Regions from separate parts of the Homo sapiens genome. Here region 2 is linked to region 1. Evidence: fine-mapped expression QTL. Tissue or cell type: whole blood. Region 1 holds a variant in brackets; the other region holds the start of a gene. All regions are shown on one strand. Distances are from middle to middle.

Region 1 (8,000 bases):
ACACACGCGGGAGGCGGGAGGCGGGAGGGGCACAGCAAAGGGTCTGGGGGGAGGCCGGAGGGGGCTTTCCCCTTGGGCACCATGGACACCCCAGGCCCCGCAGCACACAAATGCGGAGCCTCAAGCCTCCAGGGGTTTTCCAGCCTCACGCCTCCGGGGGTCTCCCCAGCCTCATGCCTCTGGGGATCTCCCACCCTCATGCCTCCTGTGGTCTCCCAGCCTCAGGCCTCCAAGGGTCTCCCTGGCCCAACCTCCTTGCTGTGTCTCCAGAAAGCTCTGAAGCCCAGCCCCTCCTCCTCACGTTCGACTGCGCTGCGTGGGTGTTTTACTAAAACCCAACAGTGACTCTTCCTCTGGGCGCCTGGATGTGTCTCCTCCAACATTTGGCCGGCCCTGCACGTGCCCCAAAGCTCCCAAGGGGCTTTTAAGAGGGCTTTGGGGTGGGGGGGCCGGGCATGGTCGCTCACGCCTGTAATCCCAGCACTTTGGGAAGCTGAGGCGGGAGGATCACGAGGTCAGGAGATCGAGACCATCCTGGTTAACACGGTGAAACCCCGTCTCTACTAAAAATATAAAAATTTGCCGGGCGTGGTGGCGGGCGCCTGTAGTCCCAGCTACTCCGGAGGCTGAGGCAGGTGAATGGCGTGAACCCGGGAGGTGGAGCTTGCAGTGAGCCGAGATCGCACCACTACACTCCAGCCTGGGCGATAGAGTGAGACTCTGCCTCAAAAAAAAAAAAAAAAAAAGAGGGCTCTGGGGGAGACAGCAGCCCCTACGGCCCCCACACCTCCCCCCAGCTGCTCAGCAAGGCCCTCCAGGGACGTCCAGCACAGCTGAACCGGCCCCTCAGACCAATGGTAACCCCAAATCTGAGACTGGGGGCCTTTTATCTGCGTCCCTTGAGTGGGCTGTGAGTTCCAAGATCCTCTTTAAAAAAGGTGGAGCCTCGAGCCAATCGGAATGGACAGACCCACCCTGTACAGGGAAGCCAGGCCAGCGGGCGCACAGGCCCAGGACCCGGGCGCAGCTTGTCTCTCACCATCAGGCTGGGTCAGCCCCTCTCCACAAGTCTGCAGGGCTGTTTTTATCCCTGAGCTCAGGATGAACTTGTACAAGGCCCCGATGGCACTCACTTTGCTGATCAGCCTGGGAAGGGGGCAGTCGGCCTGTCCCTTCTGTGGGAGGGCGGCTGCTATAATTTAAAGTGTGTCCCTCTGAAACACGCTGGAATTCCATCACCATGCTGCGGCGTTTCAAGGTGGGGCCTTGGGACGTGCCCGGGGGGTGAGGATCCTGCCCCACTGGAGGGATTAATCCATTCATGGATTCCTGGGTTATCACGGGAGTGGAACTGGTGGCTTTATAAGAGGAGGAGGAGAGGCCTGAGGCCTGAGCCCGCATGCTGGGCCCTCACCATGGCTGCCCCGAGCCGCCTCAGGACCCTTCGGAGTCCCACCAGCATGAATACCTCCTCATTCAGAATCCCGCCAGCATGAACGCCTCCTCGGATGCTCCCCTCACCCTTAGACTTAGCCTCCAGAGCTGTAAGAAATAAATTCCTTTTCTTTATAAATTACCCAGTTTTAGATATTGTGTTTTAAGTTAACAGAAAACTGGCCCGGCGTGGTGGCTCACACCTTTGATCCCACCACTTTGGGAGGCCAAAGCAGGCGGATTGCTTGAGTCCAGGAGTTTGAGACCAGCCTGGGTAACATAGCGAGACTCTGTTTCTATGAAAAAAACAGGTATCTATCCAGGCATGGTGGCATGCGGCGTGTAGGGAGGGAGCTGTGTCTACAAAGCCCTGGACCTAAAAATGGCCAAGTGGAGACATGGGCTGATGTGACTGAGAATGGAAACGGCTGGCAAGGATTCAGTTCACATTCCCTCGCTGCACACTCTCTGTAACTGGCCTCATTTTAGGATGAAAAAGCCTGTCTGGATCTCTCAGCATCTTTCTCGGAACGTGGTGCCAGGTCCCAAGCCCACACCAGGACAAGCGGGGCTCCCCAGCTCCCTGATGGGGCGACACCACTCACCAGTTTTGCAGCTTCCACTTAAAATTAACAACTGCTGGCTGGGCGCGGTGGCTCACGCCCGTAATCCCAGCACTTTAGGAGGCTGAGGCGGACGGATCACAAGGTCAGTAGTTCGAGACCAGCCTGGCCAACATGGTGAAACCCTGTCTCTACTAAAAATACAAAAAATTAGCTGGGCATGGTGGCAGGTGCCTGTAATCCCAGCTACTCGGGACGTTGAGGCAGGAGAATGGTGTGAACCTGGGAGATGAAGGTTGCAGTGAGCCGAGACCGTGCCACTACACTCCAGCTGGGCAACAGGAGCTAAACTCCGTCTCAAAAAACAAAAATAATTAACAACCAACAGCTGGGCACAGTGGCTCATGCCTGCAATCCTAGCACTGTGGGAGCCTGAGGAGGGCAGATCACTTGAGGCCAGGAGTTCAAAACCAGCCTGGCCAACATGGTGAAATCCCGTCTCTACTAAAAATACAAAAATTAGCCAGGCGCGGTGGTGGGTGCCTGTAATCTCAGCTACCTGGGAGGGTGAGGCAGGAGAATCACTTGAACCCAGGAGGTGGAGGTTGCAGTGAGCTGAGATTGCACCACCGCATTCCAGCCTGGGCGACAGAGCGAAACTCTGTCTCAAAAAAAAAAAAAAAAAAAAATTAACAACCAACCCTTTTAAGTGTCTTCATTTCTTCTGAAAGGTGCTAACTCAAGCCAAATTGTTGCCATGAGTCCTGTGACCACAGAACGTTGGGTTCTGAGAACCCCAGAGGCTCTTGTTCCCTGGCCCCACGATCCACACCCAGGGAGACGACACAGCTGGGTCCCTACCCACACGGGGCAGAACTGCACAACGAGGAAGCCCCCCTGGGGGCGGCCTGGCATGGAGGAGGTGACCCACGGGGGACGTGCCTGACTCACTGTGGAGGCGACGCTGCTGAGGGCGGGGGGCAGGGCGAGGGCTGTGTCCTTTCCCACAGAGCCTGGCAGACCCCCAGGGCCTGAGTGAGGTCCAAGGCTCTGCAGGTGACTGTGCCTGGAGCCCCAGCCCCCGGCCTCAGTGCTTTCCCACAGAGCCTGGCAGACCCCCCAGGGCCTGAGTGAGGTCCAGGCGTCTCAGGGGACTGCAGGTGACTGTGCCTGGAGCCCCAGCCCCCAGCCTCAGTGCAGATTTCGGTCATTGGCTGTGGCTGCCCTGTGCGCTGAGCAGGTGTCCAGGTGGGCATAGGCTGGCACCTCTAGGGCCCCTGGACCACCGCAGAACCTGTAGCAGATTCCGGCTGAGGCCCCGAGGCCGGCCCCCCGGGTGGGGAGTCCCAGGCCTGGCCGTGAGATGGAGTAGATGATGCCGAATGGAGCGCAGGCGTGGGAGGGGCACGCACGCCCAGAAAGGCTCATCTTCACCCCAAACCCAGCTGAGCCCAGGATGCCCCCTTCCCAGAGAAGGAAACCAGCGAAGGCACAGCTGCCCCCGAGCCCTGGGCATGGGGCTTGCTCCGGAGATGGGCTCTGAGGCAGGATGGGGGGCAGCCCTGCTCCTCGGTTTCCTGGGAGGCCTGGCCAGACACCCGGCGGCCTCCCAGGGAGCCTCCACAGGAAGGCGGGACCGGCGGGACCAACAGGATGTGCAGGGGCCCCTCCCTCGAAGCTTCGCCCTCAAGTAGGACCCAAAGCTCCCTCAAACGACCCCTGAACAGGCCGACCTTGAAGGACCCCACAAGAACCCAGGTTGCTGGCAGAGGCTCAGAGGTGGCCATGGCAGGCCAGCGGCGGCCGTCAGTCTCTCCATCGGTGCCACAGCACCACCAGCCCCGGGACCTGGAAAAGGAGCGGCAGGCGGAGGCGGGGGTGGGGGAGGTTGGGGGGAGGGGGATGGGTGGGGGAGGGGGAGGGGGTGGGGGAGTGGGAGGGAGTCGGGGAGGCGGAGGGCTTCCTGTGGCCGCGGTGCACAATGGTGTTTTCTGCACACCGCAGTGAGTCACCCAAGACGGACTGGAAGCCGGGCCACCCTGCATTCTTGTCCGGGCGCCAGGTCACGCTTCCTCTGCGGTTTTTCTGTGGTGTTTCCCTGAGGACCGGTGGGCCCTCCAGGTGGGCCTTGTGCCGCCAGCAGGC[G/A]TGGCCAGGAGGGCGGGAGGCGGCAAGAGAGTGGGCTGTGTGCCCCCCAGGTCTCCCTGGCACCCCGATGGGGGGCTCCCAGGCTCCCCCACCCCCACAGAGCCGGCCTTACTGCCCTCTTCTGAGAGCGCCAACCTTGAGGGCCCTGCAGCCGCCACCCCCAGGATGCGGCAAGGACAGGGGGCTGGAGGCCGGCCTGAGACCCAGAGCGAGTGGGCGGGCAACACTGGCTTCAGAGCCCCCAGAAGCTGTTGATCCCAAAGGAGGCCTCCAAGGCCTGTCCCCTCCCCACCTCATATTGTCTGACACAGCAGCCACAGCTGAAAGTGCAAGACACGTGATTAGAGAAGGGTCAATATCTCTGTGACAGCTTTTTATATCGACTGCATGTGGAAATGGAAATATTTTGGGCATACTGGAGTTAAATAAAATATATTATTAAAATAAATTCACTTGTTTCTCAGTTTTTAAATGTGTCTACAAGAAAACTTAAAAGCCTCCTCGTCATAAAGCTCCAGGTGCCCACCGGGGCCCTTCCAGGAGAAGCAAACAGCCCCGCGGCCACCACTCCCCAAACAGTGTCAGTGGGAACCAGAAACATTCCACATGGGACAGGGTGGATACCCCAGAGCCCCCCGGGAGCAGCCCCCAGAGGCACGAGGGCACAGCAGGATGAGCTGATGCTGGCAAGATGGCCACGCACAGCCGGGGCCCCTCGGGAGGGAGTTCAGGCCTCCTCAGTGAACAGCAGCCTTGACTCACACACTGTGTCCACTGGCTTCAAAGGGAATTCCATGTGTTTACCATCTCAGTGACCATTTTTATTTAATTTTTTTGAGACAGGGTCTCACTGTCGCCCAGGATGGAGTGCGGTGGGGCGATCACGGCTCACGGCAGCCTCAATCTCCAGGGCTCAAACGATCCTCCCACCTCAGCCTCCTGAGTAGCTGGGACCACCGGAGTGCACGCTACACCTGGATAATTTTGGGAGGGGTATTTTTTGTAGAGATGGGGTCTCACTACGTCACCCAGACTGGTCTCAAACTCCTGAGCTCGGTAATCCTCCTGCCTCAACCTCCCTAAGTGCTGGGATTACAGGCGTGAGCCACCACACCCAGCCTCAGTAACTGCTCTATAACTTTGAGATATAATTCACATACCATAAAATTTACCCTCAAAGTTACAACTCGGTGTTTTCAACATGTTCACATACATGAGTCACCATCACCACTATCCAACTCCAGAACTTTTTTTTTTGAGACGGAGTCTCACTCCGTCGCCCAGGCTGGAGTGCAGTGGCGTGATCTTGGCTCACTGCAAGCTCCGCCTCCCGGGTTCACGCCATTCTCCTGCCTCAGCCTCCCGAGTAGCTGGGACTATAGGCGCCTGCCACCACGCCCGGCTAATTTTTTGTATTTTTAGTAGAGACGGGGTTTCACCGTGTTAGCCAGGATGGTCTTGATCTCCTGACCTTGTGATCTGCCCGCATCAGCCTCTCAAAGTGTTGGGATTACAGGCATGAGCCACCGCGCCTGGCCTAGCTTTTTTTTTTTTTTTTTTTTGAGACAGGGTCTCGCTCTGTCACCCAGGGTGGAGTGCAGTGGTGCGATCCCAGCTCACTGTAACCGCCTCCTGGCTCAAGTGATTCTTGTGCCTAAGTCTCCTGAGTAGCTGGGACTACAGGCGCCCACTACCACACCCGGCTAAGTTTTATATTTCTGGTAGAGACGGGGTGTTGCCATGTTTGGCCAGGCTGGTCTTGAACTCCTGACCTCACGTGATCCACTTGCCTCAGCCCAGAACATTTTCATTGCCCCAAAGACAACCAACCATGTGCCCATCAACAATTACTCCCTCTGCCCCTCCTCAGCCCCTGGCCATTTTGTGTCTCTGTGAATCTTTCTATTTTGGGCATTTCCTATAAAGGAGACCACACAGGTTCTGTTGTTTTTTTTTTCTTTTTTTTTTTTTTTGAGACGGAGTCTCACTCTGTTGCTCAGGCTGGAGTGCAGTGGTGCCATCTCGGCTCACTGCAAGCTCTGCCTCCCGGGTTTACGCCATTCTCCTGCCTCAGCCTCCCGAGTAGCTGGGACTACAGGCGTCCGCCACCACGCCCGGCTAATTTTTGTATTTTTAGTAGAGACGGGGTTTCACTGTGTGTTAGCCAGGATGGTCTCGATCTCCTGACCTCGTGATCCACCTCCCTTGGCCTCCCAAAGTGCTGGGATTACAGGCGTGAGCCACCGCGCCCGGCCAAGGTTCTGTTCTCTTGTGGCTGACTGACCTCACTTGGCATGGTGTCTTCAAAACTCATCCCTGCAGCAGCATGTGCTGGAACTGCCTTTCCGTGGCTGAGTCCTGCCCCACTGTGTGCACAGACCACGGGCTGTTTGTCCAGCAGACATTCGGGCCGCACCCCCTTGTCTGGCTGTTATAAACAGTGCTGCTGTGAACAGCTGTGTGCATGTTTCTGTGTGGAGTGTGTTTTCACTGATCTGGGGACACACATTCCTAGGACTGGAGCTGCTGAGTCTCGGTGTTTCTATGTTTAGCTTTTTGAGGAACTACCAGACTGTTTCCACAGTGGACGTGCCATTTTACGCTAGCATCGATAACACACGAGGGTTCTGATTTCTCCACAGCCTCACCAACGCCTGTTGCGGTCTGTCTTTCGTTTTTTTAAACTTACCAATTTAACTTAAGGATTGTTCCTTTCCTTAACAATTAACATGACCAATTTTAAACACAAAAAGTAACTTTCCAGGGATATTGCACAGGAGATGGAGAAGGAGGCCAGCAGGTGTGACAGGTGTGGGGTCCCACACCGCCACTCCAGGGGGGTGCTGGCATGTTTGGCCCCCGTGGGCTCCACGTAGGTCGCAGGGTTTCTTTGTATGTTTGTTTTTATGTTTTTGAGATGGAGTCTCGCTCTGTTGTCCAGGCTGAGACGGAATCTCACTTTGTCGCCCAAGCTGGAGTGCAGGGGGGCGATCTCGGCTCACTGCAAGCTTTGCCTCCAGGGTTCAAGTGATTCTCCTGCCTCAGCCTCCCGAGTAGCTGGGATTACAGGTGCCTGCCACCACGCCCAGCTAATTTTTGTATTTTTAGTAGAGACGCGGTTTCATCATGTTGGCCAGGATGGTCTTGAACTCCTGACCACAAGCAATCCGCCCACCTCGGCCTCTCAAAATGCTGGGATTACAGGCGTGAGCCACTGCGCTGGGCCTGTCACAGGTTTGTTTTTTTTTTTTCTGTTTTTTGAGATGGAGTCTTGCTCTGTTGCCCAGGCTGGAGTGCAGTGGGGCGATCTCAGCTGACTGCAACCTCCGCCTCCCGGGTTCAAACCGTTTTCCTGCCTCAGCCTCCTGAGTGGCTGGGATTACAGGCATGCACAGCTAATTTTTGTAATTTTAGTAGAGACAGGGTCTCTCCATGTTCGCCAGGCTGGTCTCGAATTCCTGACCTCAGGTGATCAGCCTGCCTCGGTCTCCTAAAGTGCTGGGATTACAGGCAGGAGCCACTGCTCCTGCCCAGGCTGCGGTTTTGAAGGACACCTTCCCTGTTCACCGTGTTGGTTTTAGCTCTGCGGCAAGCTTCTCTGTGCACCCCACCTCCCTGCAGCTCACTGCCCACAACACATGGATGTACCATGGGACAGCTGCAAGGACGGGTCAGGTGGCCCATGGGCTCTGGGGAACCCTTTCTGGGAGGTGCCAACAGCACATGTTGGGGTCACCATCACAGACGGGGCTGGGGCCAACAGTCCCCCATCAAGGGTGGGCTTTCCCAAGGACCCCAGTTCTGATCACACAAGGTAGAATCTGATGAATGATAAACAGCATTTAAAAACCATGTTTT
Region 2 (8,000 bases), 140 kb after region 1:
ACTGCAATCCCCGTCAGCTGGCCGAGAGTGGAAACACGGCGCCCATCAGCAAAGCCACAAACCTAACCCTAGCCCTAAGCCTGCCCCCACCCCTGGCTGCCCAACCACAGGCTGGGCAGGAATGAGCCAGGGGATGGGGACAGGGAGAGGTGAAAAAGGCCACGGCCCATCCAGGTCTGGCTCCAGGGAAGCGTGAGGTGATTACCATGGTGGACGGTGAACCTTCCTCCGTGAACCACAGTCCCCAAGAGTGCAGGGCGGTGCCCAGGCAGAAGTCAGCCTGCAGCAGAGAGCATGGGGTCAGGTGGGCATGGACAGGCTTCCCAGCCCGAACTTGTTCAGAGCAGCAGGAGGAGAGCTGGGAGTTAGGGGAGAAGTCAGCAGCCCTGGAGACTTCTGGGAAGAAGTGATCTCGCCCGGGGTGCCGGGGTCCTCTGAGCCCCCTGCTAGGAAGCACTCAGAGAGCAACCTGGCTCCCTCAGTCACTGGGATACAGTGGGGCAGGGCCAGCGGCTGCCCCAGGCATCACTAACACACCCACATGCTGGTGATGCAATCCTTGGGATGCAGGTCTCAGGGAGCAGGCCTGGCCAAAGGGGAGGCCAAGGCCCCCCTCTCAGTGTCGCCTCAGCCCCAGCAGGAGCAGTGCTCAAAACCCCTATGAGCCATCTGGATTCTGAGAACATTCAACACCAGTTCACATGCCAAACAAGGAGGCAGCGGCCGAGAAGGCTCTGTGTCCTGCAGTCTCCTGGAGCAGCAGGACTTCAGAAGTCCAGGTCCGCGGGAGGGAGGGAAGAGAGGGTGAGGGCAGGATGGTGAGTGAACGACAGCAGAGGACGCTGGTGGTTCCAAGAAGTGAAAGAGAAAACGAGAAGACGAGAAGACGACACCAGCCAGACAGGCAGCCCTCTCCATTCCTGCTGGCATCACACCTTCCTCCCAGGCAGCCAGGAACCGGATAGGGCAGGGGAAGCCACTGGTTCAGCCTGAAAGTTTCTACACAAGAGCCAAGGCCTAAAACAACACCCACCCCCGCCTCACTGCAGAGAGCAGGACTCCCATCCGTGCCAGAAAATCCAGGGAAGGGCCGGGCGCAGTGGCTCACGCCTGCAATCCCAGCACTTTGGGAGGCTGAGGCGGGCGGATCATGAGGTCAGGAGATCGAGACCATCCTGGCTAACACGGTGAAACCCCGTCTCTACTAAAAATTCAAAAATTAGCCGGGCGTGGTGGTGGGTGCCTGTAGTCCCAGCTACTTGGGAGGCTGAGGCAGGAGAATGGCGTGAACCCGGGAGGCAGAGCTTGCAGTGAGCTGAGATTGTGCTACTGCACTCCAGCCTGGGCGACAGAGCGAGACTCCATCTCAAAAAAAAGAAAACTCAGGGAAGTCAGAAGAGCACTCAGAAACGCATTTAAAGACACAATTCTGCACCAAGACAGAATGAGGACGTGCCCAGAAAGCTGAGCCCTTCGAACTTGGTTCAGAAGCAAATACAAGCCCTGGGAGCTTCTGCTTCAGGACAGGGGAACCCCTACGCTCACTCTCAACCAGGTGGGGAGCAGAGAAGCACCTACGACCATGTCCCTCACTTAAGGAAGCGAAGTGAGTCCCTCAGCCCAGCAACCGCTTCTGGGACCGATTATCCAAGGAAGGCCTATCACGCGATGGCCCGTGACCTGGTCACAGGCTCTCCTGCGGTGGAGCGGCTCAGCCTTTTCTAGCTTTTCACTGTTGCTTTAATGGGTCCAGTGTTCTGGTTTAGGAAATAAGGCCTTTGCCATGTGGCTACAGATGTTTGACTAAGAAAAAGATTCTAGGGCTGGGCACAGTGTCTCACGCCTGTAATCCCAGCACTTTGGGAGGCCGAGGCGGGCAGATCATGAGGTCAAGAGTTCAAGACTAGGCCGGGCACGGTGGCTCATGCCTGTAATCCCTGCACTTTGGGAGGCCAAGGCGGGCGGATCACGAGGTCAGGAAATCGAGACCATCCTGGCTAACACAGTGAAACACCGTCTCTACTGAAAATACAAAAAAATATTAGCCGGGCGTGGTGGTGGGCGCCTGTAGTCCCAGCTACTTGGGAGGCCGAGGCAGGAGAATGGCGTGAACCTGGGAGGCAGAGCTTGCAGTGAGTTGAGATCGTGCCACTGCAATCCAGCTTGGGCGACAGAGCAAGACTCCGTCTCAAAAAAAAAAAAAAAAAAAGTTCAAGACCAGCCTGGCCAACATGGCGAAACCCCGTTTCTACTAAGAATACAAAAATTAGCCGGGCGTGGTGCCTGTAGTCCCAGCTACCCGGGAGGCTGAGGCAGAATTGCCTGAACCCAGGAGGCGGAGGTTGCTGTGAGCCAAGATCACACCATTGCACACCAGCCTGGGCGACAGAGCGAGACTCCGTCTTGGGAAAAAAAAAAACACAGAAAAAGGTTCTAAGCAAAACCATCAGGCAAAGTCCTAAAGGAACTGGAAGTAGCAACTGTGACCTTAGGGGAAGAAAAGACAAGGCCTCAGGCAATGCCCATGGGCCACCGCTGGCTGCCCTCGCTGTGAACAATGCCCATGGGCCACCACTGGCTGTCTGCTGTGACAGGCGCGTCTAACAAGTGCTGGCAGCTGTGACAGGCAGCAGAGAGGGGCCAGATCCACCACTCCCACAGTCCTCAGGCGCCAAGAAGCCACGGGGCCAAAGAGCGCGGCAGAGCAGACGCCAAGAGGACCCTTCTCTGGGTCCAGAAATGCCCCCCAACTGGGAAATCCAGGCATCTGGTCCCCCGAGTTACATACCTGTGGGCTGTCATCTTTCTCTTCCTCCATGGCCAGAAACAGAAAAAACAGTCAGGGGCGAAAAGCAGACAGCCTGAAGCAAACAAGGGCACACCTCTACCCGCTCATGCTCACACCTGGACACTTTTCCCTGGGTTCCTTTCAAGTCAAATTATGTTTCACTGAAAGGAAAATCCTGCTGAAAAAGTCTGTTCTCCAGGAAGAAAAGCTGTCTTTTGAGAAGTGTCTGTCATCTGCTAGGAGCCACCTCCTTCCCTCTGTAAACAGCCCTCACGTGGCTGTCCCGGAACCCAGAACAGCAGCCAGATGGGGCGTATCCAAGCAGGTCAAGAGGAGCCAGGCCCAGCGCGGCGGGGATGGGGGCAGCGCTGCCTTCTGGAGAAGCACGGCTGGAGGGGAGGTGACGCTGGCGGGGCGTGGATCCGGGGTGTGGGGATGCAGCTGGGGAGGAGGGTGCAGCTGGGGAGGGGGTGGATCCGGCGTGTAGGGGTACCGCTGGGGAGTGGGTGCAGCTGGGGAGGGGGTGGATCTGGGGTGTGGGGGTGCCGCTGGGGAGTGGGTGCAGCTGGGGAGGGGGTGGATCCGGCGTGTAGGGGTACCGCTGGGGAGTGGGTGCAGCTGGGGAGGGGGTGGATCTGGGGTGTGGGGGTACTGCTGGGGAGAGGGTGCAGCTGGGGAGCGCGTGGATCCGGCGAGTGGGGGTACCGCTAGGGAGGGGGTGCAGCTGGGGAGGGGGTGGATCTGGGGTGTGGGGGTGCCGCTGGGGAGGGGGTGCAGCTGGGGAGGGGGTGGATCTGGGGCGTGGGGGTGCCGCTGGGGAGGGGGTGCAGCTGGGGAGGGGGTGGATCTGGGGCGTGGGGGTGCCGCTGGGGAGGGGGTGCAGCTGGGGAGGGGATGGATCTGGGGTGTGGGGGTACCGCTGGGGAAGGGCGTGCAGCTGGAGAGGGGATGGATCTGGGCTGTGGGGGTGCCGCTGGGGACGGGGTGCAGCTGGGGAGGGGGTGGATCCGGATTGTGAGGGTGCGGCTGGGGGGCGACTTCCGCGTGGGGTGAGAGGTCGCCTGCGAGGGTGACCGGGCAGGAGGGCTCAGTGCGCAAGCCGGACGTGCTGGGTCCAAGATTATTGATTAATTTGGGCACCGCGAGGGCTCGAGTCCCCCCACACCACTGCCCGGCCTGCGGGGGAGCACAGACAGCCCGGGCCCTCCCGGCTGCAGGTCCCGGGCTTTCCCCGCGCGGTTGCCGGCTCCGCCCAGAGGAGCCGCGCCCGGCGGAGGGGTAAGAAAGGCAGGGTCGCGGCGTCAACGCGGCGGCCGTCTCGAGTCCAGGGCCCGCGTCCTCCCCGACCTCCCGACGCCACCTCACGGCCTCAGGGGGACTGGGCTCCCGGGAAACCGCCGGCCACCTGGCGGACGAACACAGGCAGTGGCGGGCAGTGGAGACGCCAGGGACCACCGCGCTGAGAGCGATCACTCATCCGCCAGCCCCGCCCCGCGAGCCCCGCCCCGCGAGCCCCGCCCCGCGAGCCCCGCCCCGCGAGCCCCGCCCCGCGAGCCCCGCCCCGCGAGCCCCGCACCGCCGGCCCCGCACCGCCAGCCCCGCGAGCCCCGCCCCGCCCCGCGCGCTCCTCGCATTGGCCGAGTCCCCGCGGCCACACCCCCTACCAGATTGGGGCCGCTATTGGACGCGGCGGCCGCGGCCAATCGGAGCCGCTCTTGCTGCGACGCAGCGGTCGGAAGCGGAGCAAGGTCGAGGCCGGGTTGGCGCCGGAGCCGGGGCCGCTTGGAGCTCGTGTGGGGTCTCCGGTCCAGGTGAGTCTGTCGGATTGGGGCGGGCGCCGCGCGCGGCCAGGGGCGGGGCTGGCCGGGTTCCCGGGGCCGCGACTACCCGCTCTCTCCTCCCGCAGGGCGCGGCATGGGCGTCCTGGCCGCAGCGGCGCGCTGCCTGGTCCGGGGTGCGGACCGAATGAGCAAGTGGACGAGCAAGCGGGGCCCGCGCAGCTTCAGGGGCCGCAAGGGCCGGGGCGCCAAGGGCATCGGCTTCCTCACCTCGGGCTGGAGGTTCGTGCAGATCAAGGAGATGGTCCCGGAGTTCGTCGTCCCGGATCTGACCGGCTTCAAGCTCAAGCCCTACGTGAGCTACCTCGCCCCTGAGAGCGAGGAGACGCCCCTGACGGCCGCGCAGCTCTTCAGCGAAGCCGTGGCGCCTGCCATCGAAAAGGACTTCAAGGACGGTACCTTCGACCCTGACAACCTGGAAAAGTACGGCTTCGAGCCCACACAGGAGGGAAAGCTCTTCCAGCTCTACCCCAGGAACTTCCTGCGCTAGCTGGGCGGGGGAGGGGCGGCCTGCCCTCATCTCATTTCTATTAAACGCCTTTGCCAGCTATACGGTGTTTGTTTTTTGGCCTCAGGTCATGGCAAAGTGTGCAGCATGACAGATTTCAGTGCAGGCACCTAAGCCGAGTTCTCATGCAGACTCGGCGCTGTGAACCTCTTTGGAGGTCATCTTCCGAGTCCGAAGGTTCTGGGAACCTGCCAAGGGCAAACATCACTCAGCTTGCAGGAGAAAGAATTTACAAGGCAGATTGTGCCGGATGACAGCACTGGTCAGTTCATCCCCCAAATTATTCACCCAGGGAACAAAGATACAGAGATGGGGGTCTCACTATGCTGCCCAGGCTGAGAACTCATGGGCTGAAATGATCCGCCCGCCTCAGCCTCCCAAAATGCTGGGATTACAGGTGTGAGCCACTGCGCCCAGCCTAGGAAAATTTCCTGTTGCAATCTGACATATAGTGACATGTTGTGTTGTATCATCAGAAAAGAAGAAAGGGATAAGGCCAGGTGCGGTGGCTCACGCCTGTAATCCCAGCACATTGGGAGGCTGAGGCGGGAGGATCACAAGATTAGGAGTTCAAGACCAGCCTGGCCAGCATGATGAAACCCCATCTCTACTAAAAATACAAAAATTAGCCAGGCGTGGTGGCGTGCGACTGTAGTCCCAGCTACTCCAAAGGCAAGAGAATCGCTTAAACCCAGGAGGCAGAGCTTGCAGTGAGTCGAGATCGCACCACTGCACTCCAGCCTGGGTAACAGAGTGAGACTCCGTCTCAAAAAAGGGATAAAACTGCATGTTTTTTTGCTTGTAGTCACCTATGTATCATTAGTAAATGCTGAGGATTTGACAAATAGTGGCCTGTACCTCAACCACAGTTCCTCCCAGAGAGACAAAAGCCCTCACAGCAGGAGTTGGATGTAACACACCCAGTTTGTTCACACACCTAAAGTCACCATCTGTCCAGTATTTGGGAGCTAACCCGTGTGGGTGCTGCAGTGATGAGTGTTCCCTACAGACTTCACATATTTCAAGCTGATGACCCCCAAGGCAACTTGGAACACACACTCCCTTTTACTTACCTGCATAGGGATCCAATACAGGTTGAGCGTCGTTATCCAAAATGCTTGGGGCTGGGCGCCCTGGCTCATGCCTGTAATCCCAGCACTTTGGGAAGCCGAGACAGGCGGGTCATCTGAGGTCAGGAGCCTGGCCAACATGGTGAAACCCCATTTGTACTAAAAATACAAAAATTAGCCAGGCATGGTGGCACACACCTGTAATCCCAGCTACTCCGGAGGCTGAGGCAGGAGAATCACTTGAACCTGGGAGGTGGAGGGCAGTGAGTCGAGATGGAGCCACCGAGATTGAGCCACTGCACTCCAGCCTGGGTGACGAGCATGACTCTGTCTCAAAAAAAAAAAAAGGCACAGCTCAACGCCTGTAATCCCGGCACTTTGGGCGGCCAAGGTGGACGGATCACCTGAGGTCCAGAGTTTGAGAGCAGCCTGACCAACATGGAGAAACCTTGTCTCTACTAAATATACAAAATTAGCCGGGCATGCTGGTGGATGCCAGCTATTGGGAGGGTGAGGCAGGAGAATCGCTTGAACTTGGGAGGCGGAGGTTGCAGTGAGTCAAGATTGTGCCATTGCACCCCAGCCTGGGCAGCAAGAGCAAAACTCCATCTCGGGGGGCAAAAAAAAAAAAAGCTTGGAACCAGAAATGTTTTGGATTTCAGATTTTGGAATATCTGCATGTACATAATGAGACATCTTGGGGATGAGATGAGATACAAGTCTAAACATGAAATTCAATTTTGTTTCATGTACACCTTATACACATAGCCTGAGGGTAGTTTTATACAATATATATGTTTTTTAGGCTAGTCAAATGAAGCTGTGAGAGAAGGAATGAATCTGTAACTGGTTGTCCTCAATTATTGTTTATACAATTTTTTATTATTTAATTTTTAGAGATAAGAGTCTTGCTCTGTTGCCCCTGGCTCATTGCAGCCTCGACCTCCTGGGCTCAACAATCCTCCTGCCTCAGCCTCCCAAGTGGCTGGGACCATAGGCACATGCACCACACCTGGCTAATTTTTGTTTTACTTTTTATAGAGACTGGGTTTTGCTATGTTGCCCAGGCTGGTCTTGAACTCCAGGCCTCAAGCAATCCTCCTGCCTCAGCCCCTTCCAAAGTGCTGGGATTACAGGCCACTGTGACTGTGCTCAGTAGTTTTAATAATATATGCAACCCGTCACATGAGTTCAGCTGCGGGATTTTCCAAAAGTTTTGGGATTTTGGATTTTTGGACTGGCTGTGCTCAATCTATACAAGCATTTCTGGTGCCATGATGAGGCATAAAATGTTCATTTTAAACATGTTATAAACTCGTGTTTTTCAAAAAACTTCATTTAATACAAATAGTTGCTTAAACAAGTATGAAAGGCTGAAAGTCAAAATCTGCCTGAGAAACTTAACAAATCTGCAAGCTGGAAACCGCGTCTTTTCCCCACTCTCTGCCAGACAGAATCACCCAGTCCACTTTCAGGGGCCCAGCAGGGAAGCTGATTTAAGAGAAGTCAACAGCTTTTCTGACTACACTGTGGATTCCATCAGTGCACAGGCACCTGCAGGGCTGCAGTAAGCATCTCTGATGAGGTGGTCCCGGGCACTCACTCGCAGTCTCCCTCCTGGTTTCCTTGTGGGAAGGGGCTTCATGATTTCAAGCTCAGTTCCCCTCCCACTCCCAGAGGTGGAGCGCATGGTCATAGAAGGAGCAGGTGGCCAGGAGGCTGAAGGCTGAGTCTGCTTCTTCTGGGTTCACGCCACAGTCACGTGTGGTGGCTGCTGTAGCCTGCAGCCAGGTGCC

What was found. PIP is the estimated chance that this variant, and not a neighbour inherited with it, causes the effect.
Region 2: PNPLA7 starts here. The variant in region 1 is fine-mapped to the expression of PNPLA7 in whole blood (TOPMed, PIP above 0.99). The same link has a PIP of 0.9 or more in lung.

The regions. Positions count from the first base shown.
Region 1 is chr9:137,407,820-137,415,819 of GRCh38, forward strand. The region is part of intron 1 of EXD3 (exonuclease 3'-5' domain containing 3); the gene reads right to left. Among named protein-coding and RNA genes, the nearest start is that of EXD3, 11 kb to the right of the region's middle. The variant G/A (reference allele first, on the strand shown) is at 4,143.
Region 2 is chr9:137,547,380-137,555,379 of GRCh38, forward strand. PNPLA7 (patatin like domain 7, lysophospholipase) reads right to left here and starts at 3,023. Exons shown (of 35, transcript NM_001098537.3): 1 at 2,789-3,023; 2 at 206-280; 3 at 1-17. The coding sequence starts at 2,818. It overlaps MRPL41 (mitochondrial ribosomal protein L41), which reads left to right and starts at 4,500. Exons shown (of 2, transcript NM_032477.3): 1 at 4,500-4,599; 2 at 4,695-5,176. The coding sequence starts at 4,703. The coding sequence ends at 5,116. It overlaps DPH7 (diphthamide biosynthesis 7), which reads right to left. Exons shown (of 9, transcript NM_138778.5): 9 at 7,065-8,000. The coding sequence ends at 7,860. It overlaps LOC124902317 (a long non-coding RNA gene), which reads right to left and starts at 6,301. Exons shown (of 2, transcript XR_007061883.1): 1 at 6,208-6,301; 2 at 5,148-5,322.